2 separate regions of the Homo sapiens genome follow, and region 2 is linked to region 1. A link means that fine-mapping ties the variant in region 1 to the expression of a gene that starts in the linked region. Tissue or cell type: whole blood. Region 1 holds a variant in brackets; the other region holds the start of a gene. All regions are shown on one strand. Distances are from middle to middle.

The links. PIP is the estimated chance that this variant, and not a neighbour inherited with it, causes the effect.
Region 2: PPP6C starts here. The variant in region 1 is fine-mapped to the expression of PPP6C in whole blood (INTERVAL, PIP 0.95).

What each region holds. Positions count from the first base shown.
Region 1 is chr9:124,952,131-124,954,893 of GRCh38, reverse strand. It overlaps SCAI (suppressor of cancer cell invasion), which reads left to right. Exons shown (of 18, transcript NM_001144877.3): 18 at 1,941-2,763. The coding sequence ends at 2,087. Among named protein-coding and RNA genes, the nearest start is that of GOLGA1, 12 kb to the right of the region's middle. The variant C/T (reference allele first, on the strand shown) is at 1,297.
Region 2 is chr9:125,188,241-125,190,860 of GRCh38, reverse strand. PPP6C (protein phosphatase 6 catalytic subunit) reads left to right here and starts at 1,058. Exons shown (of 7, transcript NM_002721.5): 1 at 1,058-1,217. The coding sequence starts at 1,143. RefSeq lists enhancers at 781-860, 163-949, 950-1,736.

The DNA.
Region 1 (2,763 bases):
ACACCCGGCCACCTTTTATTTTTGACCACATATTATATGACTTATTTATATGGAATGTCCAGAATAAGCAAATTTTTTGATACCAGAAGCACATGCGTGGTTATCCAGGGCTGAGGGAGGGGACTGGGGCGAATGGGGGAGGGATCTGCTAGAGAATAAAGAGCTTCTTTTGGGGGTGACGAAATGCTCTAAAATTGGTTGTGGTGATAGTTAAACAACTTTCTGGATATATTAAATGCCACTGAATTGTATACTTTAAATGGGTGAATTGTATGGTATGTTAATTGTATCTTAATAAAACCGTTACTAAAAAAATACAAGGTGCCTCTCACTAGCTGTGTGACATTGAAGAGTGATCTCACCTTTCTTAGCCTTAGTTTACTTATCTGTAAAATGATAACAGAAGCTACCTCATGAGATTGCTGTGATGTTTCAGTGGGAGGATTGTGTAACTATTGAGCATAGAAGTACTTACCTTTTAAGCATTGCTTTAACTGTATAGTTTCAGTTTTAAAATTTATTCAGTTTGTTTTTTAACCCAAGCATGTGAATTATCTTGGCAGTGGTTTTATCTGCACTTGAAAAGAATTCAGTGTATTCTGCTATTACTAGATGGAATGATATAAAAATGTCAGTTTGTTCCATTTGATATTAAACTAAATTGAAGAGTGTTCTTTGTATCTTCTGTATTTTTGTTGATTTTCTGTCTGCTTTTTCAATTTCTGAAACAGTAGTATTTAAACCTCTAATTAGGGCTGGGTGCAGTGGCTCACGCCTGTAATCCCAGCACTTGGGGAGGCCCGAGGCGTGTAGATTGGTTGAGCTCAGGAGTTCAAGACCAACATGGCAAGACCCTGTCTCTACAAAAAATACCAAAATTAGCTGCGCATGGTTGTGCACACCTGTGGTGCCAGCTTCTTGGGAGACTGAGGTGGGAGGATTGCTTGAGCTCATTGCAAGGCTGCAGTAAGCCAGCCTGGGCAACACAGTGAGATTTTATCTCAAAAAAAAAAATTTATTTTTGTAATGTGTGAGTGAGTCCTATAGGTAGAGAGAAGTTAACATTTGTATGTATGAACTGTTGCATGAAATGTACAGAAAAGTAGCAACTTCTTCAGGAAATTTTAAATGTATGGCAGGATTATAGTTTATAGAACTTACCAAATGAAGAAGAATTTCTAGGCCGGGCACGGTGGCTCACGCCTGTAATCCCAACACTTTGGGAGGCTGAGGCGGGCAGATCACCTGAGTTCAGGAGTTCGAGACCAGGCTGGCCAACATGGTGAAACACCTGGG[C/T]TGGAGTGCAATGGCGTGATCTCAACTCACTGCAACCTCCGCCTCCCGGGTTCAAGCAGTTCTCCTGCCTCAGCCTCCTGAATAGCTGAGATTACAGGTGCCCACCACCATGCCCGGCTAATTTTTGTATTTTAGTAGAGATGGGGTTTCAGCATGTTGGCCAGGCTGGTCTCAAACTCCTGACCTCATGATCTGCCCGCTTCGGCCTCCCAAAGTGCTGGGATTACAGGCGTGAGCCATGGTGCCCGGCTGCCCCAGCCTCATTTTAATTTCCAAAGCAATATCTTTTTATTTATTTAACATATACTTGTTGAAATTCTATATGTGTTAGGATTTTCCCCCCAGTAGCATGAATTATATGGTTTCCACGTGATACAGAGCATAGTGTCTAGCAACAATAGGCCTCAGTAAACATTTGTGGAATAACTCACTAAATGAATATATTACATTGATTCATCTGAAACTGTCATTTTTAGAGGTCAAAATGGTTAAATATCAGCAATTCAATATTCAACAAATATATTAATAAGAATCATTCCAGTATAAAAGTGAAAATACATATTACTCCTTGACACTGTTATCAATGTGTATAATTTTCTTTCATTAGACTACAAAACTTGACTTTTCTCTTCTTTGCCTACCAGGAAACACGAAATTATCCAGAATCATATCCACAACTGCCAAGGGATGAAACAGTGGAGAATCCTCATCTCCAGAAGCACATTTTGGAATTAGCATCCATTCTGGATGTTCGAAACGTGTTCTTTGAGAATACCATTGATGACTATTAAAACAAAAACCCTGTTGTCGAAACAAGTTTTCATTTTCCACAAATTTTAAATGGTGCAGTTTTCTAACGTGATAAGACACATAGTGGTGTTACTTAGTTTTTATTTTTTAATTTAGGGCCACCATTTTAAAAACAAACAAAAAAATGTTCACACTTTTAGGGTAACTGTTTTAAAATGCAACCTTTCAGGTCTTTTAAAATCTTAACCTTGGAATTTTTATTTTTTGATTTTGAGGGATGGATATTTACCTCCAACTTCTAATCCTACACTCAAATAGTCACTATTCTCACCCTGAGAAGAGTAAATCATTTATTTTTGTATAATGAGGTAAATCCAACTCTTATACTTGGACCTAAGTTAAATGTCTGGATTTGGAAATATGTAATGGTTCATAATGATGAAGCTAGCCACCATGGACTACTGAAAATCAAGAACAGAGTCCCTCCATAATATATTTTTTCTCATTCCAACTTAGCTGGTAGAAAAATGTTTGATCCTTTGAAACATGATCAAGCCAGTTTTTTGAAATCATTTAATTTCTTTCAATACTGTCATAATTTCAGAAATTGGATTGAATTGCATCTGAAAGCTACATCTTGATTGAGGACTTGAGGTGGTAATATTACTTGGAATGTATGAGTATTATGAGATTTATTTGCATATTTTCTTTGTAGTC
Region 2 (2,620 bases), 240 kb before region 1:
ATACAGCAGCTCCTTTTACTAATTTATTTTTGAGGAGGATCTCGCTCTGTCGCCCAAGCTGGAGTGCAGTGCCGCGATCTCAGCTCACTGCAACCTCCGCCTCCCAACTCAAGCGGTTCTCCTGCCTCAGCCTCCAGAGTAGCTGGGACCACAAGCACGCACTACCGCGCCAGGCTAATTTTGGTACTTTTTGTAGCTACAGATAGAATAGAGATCTTTGTCTATTTTGTTCACGAAGTACTGCAAGCGCCTTGAGCTGTACCTGGCACATCTTTGTTGCTCAGCAAAGAGTGGTTGGATAAACGAACGCTGAAGGTATGCTAGTACCAGGTACTGTTCTCGGTGCTGGAGTTACAGCAAAAAACTCCCTGCCCTCGTGGGATTCTCACTGGAAGCATGCTTAAGCTTAAGCCATTTTTCAATCTTGACCCCACCATTTTGTTCCCTGTGAGATTTGGGGTGAACTGCAGTTTCCTAGCCTCACTTTCCTATCAATCGTTACGAAGATTAAAAGGAAAAATATCATTTGTATCGCATTTAGCATCAGAAATGCTTTAATAATATTCGTTTCCCTTCCTTTCAGGCTGGAAGACTGGGGCCTGACATCTCTGCCACAGGCTTAGGCGAGGTTTTCACAGGGACTTGGAAAGGTGCAAACGGTTACTACGGCCAGGCTTACCCAATTGTTAAGTGAAGATATTCTGGAGAGTGCTTAAAAGGGTTGGAAAAACAAACCAGTGAGTGGCTAGGACCACCTACTCCGCTGTTTTGCCTCGGAAAAGCCTCGCCGGCTGCCGGGAGGTGAAAGTCTGGAGGAACGGGAGGAAAAGAGAGGGGTGGCTGTCCACAACAGAAAACTACACATCCCAGCACCCCCGCGGCAGACGACTACGGGTCCCAGCAGGTTTCGCGGGGTGGACCGAAGCGGGCTCTCTTGGGGCCTGCAGTCGGGGTTCAGCCAGAGGGGGCGCCGGGCGTACCGACGTAGCGGGGAGAAACGGGTCGCGCTTTAACGGCGCTGCGCAGGCGCCACTCACGGGCCGGACGTGACGCAGGGAAAGTTCCGGCTTCGGCCTCCGCCGCTGCCGCCGCCGCTGCTACAGCCGCCGCCGCCGCTGTTGCCGCGGCTTGTTATTCTTAAAATGGCGCCGCTAGACCTGGACAAGTATGTGGAAATAGCGCGGCTGTGCAAGTACCTGCCAGAGAACGACCTGAAGGTGAGCCCTATTTGCGGGCTCGCCCCTTCCGGCTGTGGGGCGCCCGCCGGCCGGCCCTTCCTTTCTCCAGGACCCCCGCCGGGTATCCAGTCCAGTCGCGGTGGAGGGCCTCCCCCATTGCCAGTCGACCCGGTCCTACCCGGCGTCACGCCGAGGGTCTCGCGAGCCGAGTCGTCGAATGCTGTCCCGGTTGCCTCAGTGGGGATCCCGAGGGATGTCGCGGCCTCTGTCCCAGGGTCGCCCCTTCTGGCCTTCGGGCTGCCCCAGGACCCGCAGCTGTAACAGCTTTATTTAGAAGGCTCGGCTCCCCACCCCATCCCTGGGTCTCCCGCAGTCGGAGCCGAGCCCCCGCGGCAGTGCCCTCGGGATGGGGTCGCCTCCACCGGAGGTGACAGGAGCGCGGAGTGGCCGGCGTCTGACAGGAGATGCCACCGGCTACCGGAACGCGGCCTCAGTGTGTTTAGGTCTCTGAGGAAGGGGAAGGCGGTGGGCCCGAGTGGTTTGGTACTGGCGGGAGCGAACGTCAGGTCGTCCCTCTTCATTGCCACTCCTCCAAATTGCTTTTTAGGATCGTCGGTTTTGCTAATTCAGAGGTGAATCCCGTTTCTGAGTATGTTGTTGAGCTTACTGAAGTGGATAAAGTAGTTGGTTCTCAATAAATACAAATACTTTCTCCTTAACCCCTTCTTAACTCAGTATTTCATTTTCTTCGTTTTCTAAAGGAGGTGAGTTCCTTGTTACTCCTGAGTCCAAGTAAGAGTAAATGTATGTATGGGTAAAGGAATGACTTTGGTATACTGCTTTTCTTTTTTAAAACTTTTTAATTATTATTATTATTATTATTATTATTGTTTTTAACTGAGATAGAGTCTCACTCTGTCACCCAGGCTGGAGTGCAGCGGTGCGATCTTGGCTCACTGCAACCTCCACTTCCCGGGTTCAAGCGATTCTCCTGCCTCAGCCTCCCGACTAGGTGGAATTACAGGCGCCCGTCACGACGCCCGGCTGTTTTGTATTTTTAGTAGAGACGGGGTTTCGCCATGTTGGCCAGGCTGGTCTTGAACTCCTGACCTCAAGTGATCCGCCCGCTTCGGCCTACCAAAGTGCTGGTATTACAGGCGTGAGCCACCGCGCCGGCCTAGGTATACTGCTTCTTTGAAAAGTGTTTCTATGCATTTGCTGAAATCAGAGCTTAGGTTTCTAGCAGTGCTTATCAGCTCGTGCTAGTATTTAACCGACTCAGTGTATTCTTTTTTTTTGAGACGGAGTCTCGCTCTGTCGCCCAGGCCGGAGTGCGGTGGCACCATCTCGGCTCACTGCAACCTCCGCCTCCCGGGTTCACGCCATTCTCCTGCCTCAGTCTCCCGAGTAGCTGGGACTACAGGTGCCCGCCACCACGCCTG